Linked DNA regions of Homo sapiens. The protein of the gene in region 2 interacts with the protein of the main gene of each other region in a biochemical or structural test. Each region holds a gene or a part of one and is shown on either strand. Other genes may lie near its edges.

What was found.
Region 1: the proteins of G3BP2 (region 2) and RIOK1 form a complex in vitro, tested with the Homo sapiens proteins (one study listed by BioGRID).

Annotation. Positions count from the first base shown.
Region 1 is NC_000006.12:7,406,772-7,413,814, forward strand, and holds part of RIOK1 (serine/threonine-protein kinase RIO1), read left to right. Parts: intron 1-3,614; coding exon 3,615-3,680; intron 3,681-4,560; coding exon 4,561-4,680; intron 4,681-6,117; coding exon 6,118-6,171; intron 6,172-7,043. UniProt on the Homo sapiens protein: Involved in the final steps of cytoplasmic maturation of the 40S ribosomal subunit. Involved in processing of 18S-E pre-rRNA to the mature 18S rRNA. Required for the recycling of NOB1 and PNO1 from the late 40S precursor.
Region 2 is NC_000004.12:75,642,378-75,649,420, reverse strand, and holds the end of G3BP2 (ras GTPase-activating protein-binding protein 2), read left to right. Parts: intron 1-679; coding exon 680-782; intron 783-2,263; coding exon 2,264-2,392; intron 2,393-2,964; coding exon 2,965-3,083; intron 3,084-3,718; coding exon 3,719-3,991; 3' UTR 3,992-6,635; downstream 6,636-7,043.

The DNA.
Region 1 (7,043 bases), on a different chromosome or scaffold from region 2:
ACCCTGGCCTCCCTGAGTAGCTGGGACTACAGGTGCGAGCCACTACACCCGGCTAATTTGGGTATTTTTTGGTAGAGACAGGGTTTCACCATGTTGGCCAGGCTGGTCTCCAACTCCTGGCCTTAAGTGACCCGCCTGCATCGGCCTCCCGAAGTGCTGGGATTGCAGACATGAGTCACCACGCCTGGCCTAGGATTTCTTCTTTTAAGGCTGAATAATGGTCCAGTGTATGTATATACTATATTTTGTTTATCCATTCATCTGTGGATGGACATACGGGTTGCTTATACCTTCTGGCTATTCTGAATAATGCTGCTATGAACATGGATGTATAAATATCTCTTCAAGATGCTGCTTTCAGTTCTTTCGAATATACACCCAGAAGTAGAATTGCTGGATCAAATGATATTTCTATTTTCAAGTTTCTGAGGAACCCACCATACTGTTTACTGTAGTGGCTGCACCATTTTACATTACCACCAACAATGCACAAGGGTTTTAATCGCTCCACATCCTCACCAGCACTTACTAATCTCCATACCCTCACCAACACCTATTATTTTGTTTTTTGTTTTGTTTTGACAATGAGAGACCCCCTAATGAGTGTGAGGTGTATGTTATTATGGTTTTGGTTTGTGTTTCCCTGATTACTAGTGACGTTGAGCATCTTTTCATGTGCTTCTTGCCCATTTATATATTTTCTTTGGAGAAATGTCTTTTTTTTTTTTTTTAAGAGACAGGGTCTCTCTGTTACCCAGTCTGAAGTACAGTGGTACAATCCTGTCTCACTACAGTCTCAACCTTCTAGACTCAAGCAGTTCTCCTGCCTCAGCTGCTTCAGCCTGCTGAGACTATAGGTGCAGACCATGACACCCAGCCAATTTTTTTTTTCTTTTTCATTTTGTTGGGACAGGGTCTCACTGTGTTTTCCAGTCTGGTCTTAGACTCCTGGGCTTAAGCACTCCTTCTGTCTCGGCCTCTCAAAGTTCTGGGGTTGCAGGCATGAGCCACAGTGTCCAGCCCCATGTCTTTTTTTTAATCAGGTTTGGTTTTTTTTGTTGAGTTGTTTGTATTTTCTGGATATGTCAGATACGTGATTTGCAAATGTTTATTCCCATTCTGTGACTTGTCTTTTCACTCTGTTGATTGCAAGCTTTGATGCACAGAAGTTTTAAATTTTGATGTGATCCAGTTTATCTATTTTTATTTTTGTCTCTGAATCATAGAGTTTTGAACACATGGCATGTATGCCTCTACACAGGTTTTCAGGTTTGTTTGTTTTTGAGATGGAGTCTCGTTCTGTTGCCCAGGCTGGAGTGCAATGGCACAATCTCAGCTCACTGTAACCTCCACCTCCTGGATTCAAGTGATTCTCCCACCTCAGCCTCCTGAATAGCTGGGATTATGGGCACCTGCCATCATGCCCAGCTAATTTTTGTATTTTTGTAGAGATAAGGTTTCACCATGTTGGCCATGGCAAGTCTCGAACTCCTGACCTCAGGAGATCCGCCTGCCTCGGCCTCCCAAAGTGCTGGGATTACAGGCATAAGTCGCCTTGCCTGGCCAGGTCTTCAGGTTTTATCCTGTCCTTTCCTCTTTTTCCATTTCCTTGCAATACCTTCCCATTTCTGCCTTTGCTCAACTTTGCTCCGCCTGGTGAACTTTAAAGCTCCAGTTAGAAAGCTCTCTGGAGGGGTATTTCAGCAGAAATTGTTTTCATAGGTGTAGTCTCCTACAACTATAATAGAAGTAGTCACACTGTGTCACTTATTATACTAAGTCCCTAATTCTGTCACCCTCAATTATGAACTTTTATGGAACAGGAGTTTTCTCTATTGCCAAGTACCCAATATCTGGCCCATAGTAGGCAATCACATCTGTTAATGGAATAAATAAGTGTGTCATTTTTATTCCTCAACTTTTTAACTTAGCACTGACTTTCTTTTTCTTTTTCTTTTTTTTTTTTTTAAATGGAGTTTCCCTCTTGTTGCCCAGGCTGGAGTGCAGTGGGGCAATCTCGGCTCACTGCAACCTTTGCTTCCTGGGTTCAAGCGATTCTCCTGCCTCAGCCTCCCGAGTAGCTGGGATTACAGGCATGCGCCCCCATGCCCAGCTAATTTTGTATTTTTAGTAGAGATGGGGTTTCTCCATGTTGGTCAGGCTGGCCTTGAACTCCTGACCTCAGGTGATCCATCCGCCTCGGCCTCCCAAAGTGCTGGGATCATAGGTGTGAGCCACCGCACCCGGCCTCTTTTATTTATTTATTTTTTTGACGGAGTTTCGCTCTTGTCACCCAGGCTGGAGTGCAGTGTGCAATTTCGGCTCACTGCAATCTCCGCCTCCCAGGTTAAAGCAGTTCTTCTGCCTCAGCCTCCCCAGTAGCTGGGATTACAGGCACCCAGTAGCTGGGATTACAGGAGCCCACCACCACTCCCGACTAATTGTGTGTGTGTGTGTGTGTGTGTGTGTGTGTGTGTGTGTGTGTGTGTGTGTGTGTGTTTGAGATGGAGTCTGGCTCTCTCACCCATGCTGGAGTACAGTGGCACGATCTCGGCTCACCACAACCTCTGCCTCCCGGGTTCAAGTGATTCTCCTGCCTCAGCCTCCAAGTAACTGAGATTTCAGGTGCATGTTAGCATGCCTGGCTAATTTTTGTGTTTTTAGTAGAGACGGGTTTTCACCATGTTGACTAGGCTGGTCTGGAACTCCTGATCTCATGATCCAGCCGCCTCAGCCTCCCAAAGTGCTGGGATTACAGACGTGAGCCTCAGCCTCCCAAAGTGCTGGGATTACAGGCGTGAGCCTCAGCCTCCCAAAGTGCTGGGATTACAGGCATGAGCCTGTAATTAGACTGCACCTGGCCTAATTTTTGTATTTTTAGTAGAGACGGAGTTTCCCCATATTGCCCAGGCTGGTCACAAACTCCTGATCTCAGGTGATCTGCTGGCCTCACCTCCCAAAGTGCTGGGATTAGAGGCGTGAGCCACTGTGCCTGGGTCAGCACTGATTTTCGTGTCTAAACTCAAAAAAAAAAAAAAAAAAAACCTCTGCTCCCACTATTTTTTCCTTTCTTCTATATAGAGAAGAGAACACTCAGTTTTACAAACCAAAAGAACCCTTTGGAATCTTTGTCACCCTCGTTTCAGTCATTGTTTGCTCAGAGAGCTTTCTTCAGTGCAGCAGCAATAAAGCCGTATATTCAAGATTTACAGCCAGCCTTTGCAATTCCCTTCGCCGACTGCTCAGGATTTAAGGAATGGTTCTTTCATTCTTTAGGTCTCTGTATTCCTTTAGTAAATGCTAAAGCATTTACTAAATGCAAAAGCTAATTATTTAAATTTAGTAAAAGTAGCATAACTTTTGAAAAAGGGGGGCTAGGGATCCCCCTAGGCTAGAAGAGTTTGATTTATTGTTACTTTTGGGTTGATGGCAGCCTTTTTGGTGAGGTCTGTGCTGGAAAGCTAACTTGTACCATTAGACCTCACTAAATGCTTTCCTAAGTGTGAGGAGGTGATACTTAAAAAGACTGGAACAATTTTATACCAAAACTGGGACATGGATGTGCCTTCTGCAGTTTGAATATAAAAGAAAGTCATTTTTGTTTTCTTTCCAAGGCCATGGAAATAGCATCTCAAAGGACCAAGGAAGAACGGTCTAGCCAAGATCATGTGGATGAAGAGGTAGGATTTATTATCTATTCACAGCCTTTGGAAACACTTGTGTTTTGAGGGTTTTTTTTTTTATGTTGCTAGAGCATAAACTTGATTTAAATAGATAAGCAGCTTTTTCAAATGATGGTAATATTTCCTTAAGATATATTATAGTAAATGATTTAAGTGAGCCAAGTTGGATAGTTTACATTTCACTGTATTGGTCCACTCAGCAACCTGTTAGCCCATTGTCCTAGATGGAGAAAATTTTTAAAGAGCCTGTTAGGATATAGGCGTCAAGAAGGAAAAGCCTGTTTTTAATTTGCAAATGTGAGTTTTTAAATGACTTAAATATTGATTCTAGAAATGTTATAGATTTTAAATATTATGCTTTGATAAAAACGAGTCAGGGTGTTTTTTTGTGAAGGAGCCATAGTAGGCTTTTAAAAAAAATTCTCACAACTCTTAATGGTTGACTATGAGGTGCCCTGTGTTTGTCGGCAGCTCTCCACCTTTTTCACTGTAGCAGCTGGGTATGTTTCGTAAGGCATAGCCAGGCAGCGCTTGCCAACTGTAATTCCGCCCCTTTCCCTCCTGCTCAGAAAAGCTTTTTGGAACAAAAATGAAGGAGAAGTGTTATTCTAAGGATAATCTTGAATCAGCTCTAATGTTTTTTTTCCCTTCCTTAAAATAAATCATATGCAAAATTTAGTGTTCTATCATTAGTAGTGTTACTTTTGGGACACCACATCACAGATGGGATACCAGTGTGTGCAGACAGCTTAGCCAAGCATCAGTGTTAGGGATGAATGAATATATAGATTCCCCTGTAACCTGATGGAGGAGTATGCTGTGTGAATGTGAGAAGTGTATGAATAACAGTTTTGATTTTGCTTTTCCTCTCTGTTAGGTGTTTAAGCGAGCATATATTCCTAGAACCTTGAATGAAGTGAAAAATTATGAGAGGGATATGGACATAATTATGAAATTGAAGGAAGAGGACATGGCCATGAATGCCCAACAAGATAATGTAAGTAGCTTGGTTTGTATATAGCAAGCAGCTCTTCAAAAGTAGTAGGGGACTGTCCCAAACCTATCTGGGCCTTTTAAGTTCCCCTAATCTTGAATATTGGCTTCTGAGCTAGTGAAATGACTAACTCTATCTGTGTTAACTTGTGTGCACATTGAACGCAAAGGGAATTATTTGGAATTTATGAGAGGAGGTAACACATTTGAATGAATCCAACAAGCTGTAATTGTAGAAACAAGATTCAGATAGAAGTCTAGGCTATTAATGGTTATTATATTAGGTCCATTAACATATATTTCTTTAACATACATCATTCAGGAACAATTTCTTTTTGGTGAAGGGTCAGATAGTAAATATTTTAGGCTTTGCAAGCCAAGAAACAAAATTGAGGTGATTACGTAGGTCCTTATGTAACAAGAGAGAAAAAAATTCACCCTCAATTTTTATTCGTGAAATTAGAAATACTTTAATAATAGTTGAATACACTTTTGTGTAATACAAGTATACTAAAGAAGAGTGGAATTATTTGATGTGGGGCAGATAATATTTCACTTAATTGGGGCTCAAAGTTTGTGTTTGCTATCTTCAAATTGATTGCAAATGTTTATCTGTAAAAACTACCAGGTAGGCTGGGCGCAGTGGCTCACACCTGTAATCCCAGCCCTTTGGGAGGCTAAGGTGGGCGGATCACTTGAGGTCAGGAGTTCGAGACCAACCTGGCCAACATGGTGAAACCCTGTCTCTACTAAAAATACAAAAATTAGCCAGGCATGGTGGCGTGCTCCTGTAATCCAAGCTACTGGGGAGGCTGAGGCACGAGAATCACTTGAACCCGGGAGGCGGAGGCTGCGGTGAGCTGAGATTGCGCCATTGGACTTTAGCCTAGGCTACAGAGCGGAACTCTGTCTCAAAAAAAAAAAAGGCCCAGTACGGAGGCTCACACCTGTAATCTCAGCACTTTGGGAGGCCGAGGTGGGTGGATCACCTGAAGTCAGGAGTTCGAGACCAGCCTGGCCAACATGGTGAAACCTCGTCTCTACTAAAAATATAAAAATTAGCTGGGCATCGTGGCAGCTGTAATCCCTGCTACTCAGGAGGCTGAGGCAGGAGAATCTCCTGAACCCCAGGTGGTGGAGGTTGCAGTGAGCCAAGATCGCGCCACTGCACTCCAGCCTAGGCCACAAAGCAAGACTCCGTCTCAAAAAAAAAAAAAAACAACTACCAGGTGGCTGGTTGGATTTGGCCAGTAGATCTGGTAGACAGAAATAATATCAATATTATAAACTTCCTGTGTTACAGTGAGATTAATTTTAGATACCTTTTTATAATCATAGGAGACATTATTTAACCCACATTGTTCTTAATAGTGCAATATGCATATTTCATTGTCTAGTTTTATGTTGATCCTTATTTTTTTTTTTTCATTTTGGTTATAAGATTCTATACCAGACTGTTACAGGATTGAAGAAAGATTTGTCAGGAGTTCAGAAGGTATGAAGAACATGTGTTACTGTTTGTTTATGTGAAAACAGTTTTAAAGGATATAAACTCTAGTCATACTGTTTTTTATTATTATTTAATATTATTAGAACTAAATGTTATTTTATATTGTTAAAATGTTATAATTGCTTTCAAAGTCTGTGGACATCTTCAGAAATGCCATTTTTGTGTTCTTTCTAAACACAGCACTGAAATTTGGAAATTAATTTATTTTTCTTTCTGTCTCTGAATTGTTCAGTGATTGCAGGTGAGGTATTTATCTTTTTGTATCCTGGTCGTCATTTGTGGAGCTCTTAATGATAGCCATTGTGCTTCTTGATGGTTTTACAACCAGCTTAGGAGAACTTTGGAATGTAGTCTCCTACCAGGGTATTACTTGTTAAAGAACAATCTCATGAGTTCAGCAAGTCCTGCTGTGCTGGATTCCTGTGATGTTCTTTTTTCTTAAAACAATCTTGTTTTGTTTTACATTTTAGAAGGGCAGGGATTAAGTAATTCTAACTTAGGCAGTCATAAAAGCAGTCTTTATTTTTTTAAATCTTCCTAATTGAAGACTTAAATAAAGGATCACAGTTTGCTTTCTTAAAATCATGTCTTTTCTGTGGAAAGAATTGAATTAGGGGAATTCTGGTATTTTGCATTTCTGAGTTATAATAACAGGTGTCATAAGGAAGTTATGCTTTGGATTCCAGAGCATGAAGATTTTATTGCAGCAAGCTAGAAAATCTTGTTGTACAATTGACTTCTAAAGATCTGTTTTTTTCTTATAAAAGGGAAACCTCACTCTTAAAAACTGCTAGGAAGCGCTGTATTAGACAACTGCTGAATTTCAGGAAGTAATGAAAATTTCTCTTCTTCACATA
Region 2 (7,043 bases):
ACCAATACTTCAAATGCATATTTTTCTCATAAGGAAGAACAGTAGGGAGCTAAAGGACTTTAACTATTTGAGATGCTACATACAAGTTCCTATAAGTTTCTGTCATTTTTTTAACATGCATTTTAACCTTACAGGTAGCAATTTCAGGTGTTAGAGCAAGCTAATTTTTATACTTTGAACTATAAAAATACTGATTTTAAGGTTATGGGCAGAGATTTAGGCAATACTACTGAGCACTGTTACATTTGAAGGATAGCAAATTAGATTTTCAGAAATTATGTGTTATGTATTCTTGTCTAAGATGAAGATGGCTTTTAATTTTGTTTATGTATTTACATGGAGTGGTTCATCTTGCATTTTTGTGATTTTTTTTTTTGGTAGCAATACCTTTTATGCTATTTCAGTGTTGATATAACTTTAATGAAAAAATGTGACTGTAAAAAGCAACTTATTGTGAGTTACACAGCATTAAGTGGGAAAACAAAAGCTACCTACAGTCCTAGATTGGTACAGAATATCTTGATAAAAATTTATTTTTCTCATACATAGGACACTATGTTAAAAACATTCTAAACTTAAAACTACTGTTATGTCTGCTAGTGACTTGTCGTTAGGTGCTTTGGTTGGTTTTTCTCCAGTGGAGTGTTTTTTATAATGTTTTTTTTTCTTTATATTTTAGCCAAGAGTCGAAGCTAAACCAGAAGTTCAATCTCAGCCACCTCGTGTGCGTGAACAACGACCTAGAGAACGACCTGGTTTTCCTCCTAGAGGACCAAGACCAGGTGAGTCAGCTCCTTTATAGCCTTTAGCATTTAACATTTGTAAGGCTGTAAAAGACTGAACTTAAACAAAAAACTATGATGCGTTCTATACACAGACCCATATAGTCTCAAATTGCTTAAAGATGTGATGTGAGCAACCTGCTAAATAGTGTCTGGGGCCAAATAACCAATTTTTAGGGAGGATTGGTTGACATGCCATGGTGACATATTTTGAAGGTGTAAAAGACTTAAGTCTTATTTGGTTATTGTCACGGTTTTTTGTTTTTTTTTTTTGTTTGTTTGTTTTTTTTTTGAGACGGAGTCTTGCTCTGTCGCCAGGCTGGAGTACAATGGCGTGATCTCAGCTCACTGCAACCTCTGTCTCCCGGGTTCAAATGATTCCCTTGCCTCAGCCTCCCAAGTAGCTGGGATTACAGGCACACGCCACCAGGCCCAGCTAATTTTCTGTATTTTAGTAGAGACAGGGTTTCACCATGTTGGCCAAGATGGTCTCGATCTGCTGACCTCATGATCTGCCCTACTCGTCCTCCCAAAGTGCTGGGATTACAGGCATGAGCCACTGTGCCCGGCCTAGTCACTGGTTTTAAGAGTTCAAAACCAAGCTGCCAATAACCTACTCTCTTAGCAGTCTTATCTCTTTACAGATAAACAATAAGCCCATTTTGATTCTTAGGTATTAAGTAAGTTGCCATGATTTTTGACTTGTTTACCTTGTTAGCTACACATGTAATACTTTTATTTGAACTCTGTAAGAATGTTTAGATTGCTTTGGGGAGGAGATGGGAGAGATGGAGATAGTATATATCACATTTACAATGTGAATTTTTAAAGTGATATGTTACCAAACTAGAAGTCCTAAATTTGTCAGTGATTAAACTTGGGATCTTGAGTGAAACCCTTAAATTCTGAGCTTCTTTTATGTCAAATATTACACAAATTATTCTTGTATTGCCTATTTTCCTCACTGTGTTCCTTGTGTTATTGGGAGAATCAAATAAGATTTTATGTATATCTATATACATACACACTTAATATGTATAGACTGCATAAATGTGATGATTGCTGTTAAAATTTACTGATTGCTGTAATGTCATAAAGCCAAAGAATTTTGAATTTCAAAAAACTAAGCAAATATTTAGTAAGCTATACCTCACTATCTGAAATCTGCTTGGTTCCTGGGTGATGGCAACAGTTTGGTTAAGGAGGAATACCTGTAGTACTAATATTTGATTTTTGTATAATCCAGTAGATCTAGAAGAAGCTATTTTAGCAACCTAGTCATTGTCCTCACTTTACATTTTAGTGTCATGCTGTTTTCTAACCTACTAGTAATAAGTACTTTTGCCTCTTTTTCAAGAAGCTCACCTAGTCTTATTAAACTAAAACAGGAATATCAATATTAAGTGATTTTTACATTCACTCCTTTGAAGTAGTTTTTATGATATTGTAAACTTTAGTATCTGCTCTATTTCTATTCTCAGGCAGAGGAGATATGGAACAGAATGACTCTGACAACCGTAGAATAATTCGCTATCCAGATAGTCATCAACTTTTTGTTGGTAACTTGCCACATGATATTGATGAAAATGAGCTAAAGGAATTCTTCATGAGTAAGTGATTTATTTTGCTGTTGGAGTTTTTAAATTATTTTAAATTAAGCAAGAGGCATATGGAGCTTTTTTAATAACTATTTTTTTTAAATGTTTCTCTCTTTATACTGTGTCCAGCTACCAGACCCACCTTAATTGTGCAGAAGGGAGTAGATGACTTATCTCACATGTTTCTCAGTGACTGCTTAGTGTTGATTTGGCCTGGCTCAGTAGTGTTTAGAAGAAACAGCTGGATAAATCAGTCATAAATTCAGAGATAAAGGATTCATTTGGCAAATGGGTCAATATATTAGGAGAAAATACATTGTCTTTCCAAAATTATGCAGTTAACTTTACTTATGAAAGGACTACCAAAGATGCAGAAAGGTAACACAGCAGGCGGGCAGGCTACTTGGTATCTTAGGGGATTGCCTGCTTGAGTAAACGTACCTTGGCTATCACTGTGTGTAGAAGCTTGCGAGTTTTATTTTAAAATGGATCGGGGAGATAACGATATTCATCCTGAACAATTAGAGCCATCAAGGTATTCTGTTAAAAATATTTAACCCTTGATGTAATGTATATTTTCACAGGTTTTGGAAACGTTGTGGAACTTCGCATCAATACCAAGGGTGTTGGGGGAAAGCTTCCAAATTTTGGTTTTGTGGTTTTTGATGACTCTGAACCAGTTCAGAGAATCTTAATTGCAAAAGTAAGTGATTTAAAGGGCATAATTCAAGACTTTATTATTTCTGTTGTATATATTAATTTGGGGTATTTAAAAACCATAGAAAATCTTTTAATAATAAAGCTAAAAATAGTTATTAAATGGTATTTATGCAAAGAATAAAGATTTGTTAGTTTGCAGATCATTTTAAATTTTGTTACTTGCTTTGCTGAAGAAGGTGGGAAAGATTGCAAGATTGCATGTTAAGAATTTTGGCTGGGTATAGTGGCTCACACTTGTAATCCCAGCACTTTGGGAAGTTAAGGCAGAAGGATTGCTTGAGCCCAGGAGAGTTCAAGACCAGCCTGGGCAACAGTGAGACATTGTCTCTACAAAAAAAGAAAAATAGCCGGCCATGGTGGTAGACACCTATAATCCCAGCTACTCAGGAGGCTGAGGTGGGAGTATCACTTGAGCCCAGGATGTCAAGGCTGCAGTGAGCCATGCTTGTGCCACTGGCTGTCACCAGCCTGGGTGACAGCTGAGACCCTATCTCTGGGGGGTGGGGGGCTGATAAAAGTGTTTTATTCCTTATGCTTATCTGACTGACCTGTTCAGAGTAATCATTTCTATTGCTGTCTAACCTGCCCATGTAAATATTTTTCTTCTCTTTTATAAAGCCGATTATGTTTCGAGGGGAAGTACGTTTAAATGTGGAAGAGAAAAAAACAAGAGCTGCAAGAGAGCGAGAAACCAGAGGTGGTGGTGATGATCGCAGGGATATTAGGCGCAATGATCGAGGTCCCGGTGGTCCACGTGGAATTGTGGGTGGTGGAATGATGCGTGATCGTGATGGAAGAGGACCTCCTCCAAGGGGTGGCATGGCACAGAAACTTGGCTCTGGAAGAGGAACCGGGCAAATGGAGGGCCGCTTCACAGGACAGCGTCGCTGAAGCTCCACTGTTGGCAAAGTCTTGGCAGTGGTACATTATTCATCGTGTTTGCATTCTTGTTAATTTTTTTTTTGGCTTTGGAATGTGACACAGCCTTTTTGATCATTTCTTTGATGTGAAAAGCATCTTTGGTTATCAGTTAAATTGAGGTGGACATTATTTCCCCAATTTCACAACAGGATTCACATTGTTAATTTATAAATCTAGACTTGGAGAATTAAGGACTGAGAAATGACCATATCTTAAACTATCTACGACAAAGTGAACTTAAAAGGACATGCCCACTGAATTCAGGTCCTTTGAGTAAAAAAAAAATCTTCTGCTGCACATTTTGTTTAAGTGTTACTGTTTCTGCCTGTTAATGCTGGGAACACAAATAGTGCAATTTGTGCAATTGGAGAATCTTGCCTTTTTTCTTGGCTCCCCCCAAAAATACAAACCAACAGAAACTTGTTATGCACTCATCAAAATGTACTAATGGGTACTCTGAACTCATTAACATTGACATCTGCAACAGGAGGCAACAGGGAAAAAATCTCATCTTCTTTTCCAGTAGAAAATAGTTTGTGAAATGATGAGGGCATTTTATCTGCTTGCTGTGACCAGCGTGTGTACACATAAACCTTAACAAGACTACAAGTATATTCCAGAAGGAAATCATTTTAGTTATGAACTAAATAATAAAAATTAGAACTTCAAATGCGATGGTCTTGACTATTAGACCAGATTTAGTAGCTCCATATCTAAGATTTTTCTACCTGCCCCTCTTCAGTACAGGGATGGCTGGCTGCTCAACACACTCCTCCTCCCCTTTTTTCCTTTCTTTAAGCTGTGTACAGTGAAAATTGTCTTTACTGTATTTTTGTTCTCTGGTAATGTAATAAGCATGATGGTGCCTTCTATTAATACATCATTCCAGTCTTGCTGGTAATTTTGTACAGTATAGTGTATGAATTGCTGTGCTGCAAAGCCAAACAGCTGCAAAATGTTGAAAAATCATCGAAATGTATAAAAATTGCAGTATCTTTAAAATCAGTAAAATGGACTAGCATATTATTTATCTTGTTCTTCAGTTAACAACTTTGTGTTCTCTGTGGGAGGGAGGGAGTCCTGTGTGTTTGTGGGGAGAGGGAAGGAGGAAGTCAGTTATTTGAGTAAGCCTCTAGTTGACTTTTCTCTTAGCCTGAATGTGGACGTTGAAACATATCACTTCAGGGCTTGGAAAAGTCAGTCAACTTGACGTACATTTTTAGTGACATTTTAAAAGCAGTCAGATTCTATAAATGGCAAGTAAGCCTGAAGTGAGGATACTGCAATTTTCGGAGAAAAGAACAGCAGCTCTTTAAGTGTTTGCATTTTCTATTTGGGGGGCAGGGAACTGTCATTCATTTTGCACAATTCTTGAACTGATGTCAGCACCCGAGTGGCTCCTGAATTTAAGTCTGGGACGACATCTTTTATTTTTACATGAATCTTTAAACAATTCTGTGAGCAAAGTTTGTAGCTGCTGGATTATTGTCTGTCTTTATAGCAAGTTCCAGTAAACCACAAGTATGGCAAAGCTTATCCAATTTTATGCTTGGAGCAGTCAGTACATACCAGTTTCTGATGTTTCAGGCAGGAGTGGGGTAAATAAGTGTGACCACTTAAAGCTGCTCGTTAGCATGGAAGACTTCTCCATTCTATCTTTGTAAAACAGACAAGATATGCACTTGACATAGTAGCAAATTGGTTCTGAATTATGCAACTGTTTGCTATTTAGTAAACTAGCAAATGATGCATGTATTTTGTTTTTCATGTACTGGGCAATATGAGTAAAATCTGTCCCTTTTTCCCCCTTTGAATGAGGTCTTCCATGTTTGAGGGAAAGTCTTGCACTATTGCATATATTTTGGGGACACAGATTTTCATAGTTTCCATTTTTGGGGGGCTTAAGGATTTTTTTTTTTTCTGTTTGAAACAGTTTTATACTTTCTGATATAGTACTTGAAATTCTTACCAGAAAATTACTTTGGAGTTTTGAAGCCTTTATTAATACTACTTTTAAAGAAGCAGTTGTTTTATTGTCAATGTTTTTTTTCCCCCAAGCATATTTTCTTGTATTTCTGTTTCCATATATATATATATATATATAATTTCCAATTCAGGATATTGCCCTGCCATCCATGAAAACTGTTCTGGCACCAAAAGTAATGACAAATGTTAAGTGTAATAATAGAAAAGTAGAGCAAAGAGCCATTCAGCTTCAGTCTTTACATACCATGAATAAAACATTAAAACATCATATGGAGAAGTTTACATGGTGATTGTTCACCTGCAGTACTGTGGAGTTTTAACATTTTGTCCTCTTTTCAGTGAAACAGAGTAAAAATATTCATCTACCATTACTGTTATTTGCTGATTTTGTTTTATTTTTTGATGGTAATATTCTATCCTTATGACACTATTGCAACCAAATTGGCTTTACCATCTTGGCTTTAGTAGGTATAGAAGACAATGGATTACCATCTTTATTGCTGTAATGTGTTAAGCATTATATGCTAGTAGAATCTAGTTTAATTGTTTCAGGTGGAAAGTATTCTTTGAGTTTCCATATTGAATGTGTTTGGACTAAACAAACAATAAACTACTGATGTCTGCAGCATTTATCTATGTCCCTAATTTAATCTATAGTTTTTATTGTTCCCAAATGTTTTCTCCCAGTTGCATTTCATACAAACTAAGTGGGAATAATAAGCAGTTGGGTTTTAAAACAATTTATTTGTGAAATTTGATACGTATAAAAAAAGTAAAACATTTAAGTAACACTTGACCATTGTAAGAGATCTATTCCGTCCAGTTAGACTGCTGGTATACAGGTTGAATGTTAGAATAATAAGTAGTAAGAATGATGAGAATGATCTAAAGCAGATTACAACCTTGGATTTTCTAAAGTATTTTCTGCCTTGCATCTCACAAGAAAGGAGAAGGGAAGGGATGAGAAGATTGAGGTTACCTGAAGTTAATGGACATGACTCAAGTTCAGAAATTGGAACTAATTTATCAAGCTCTC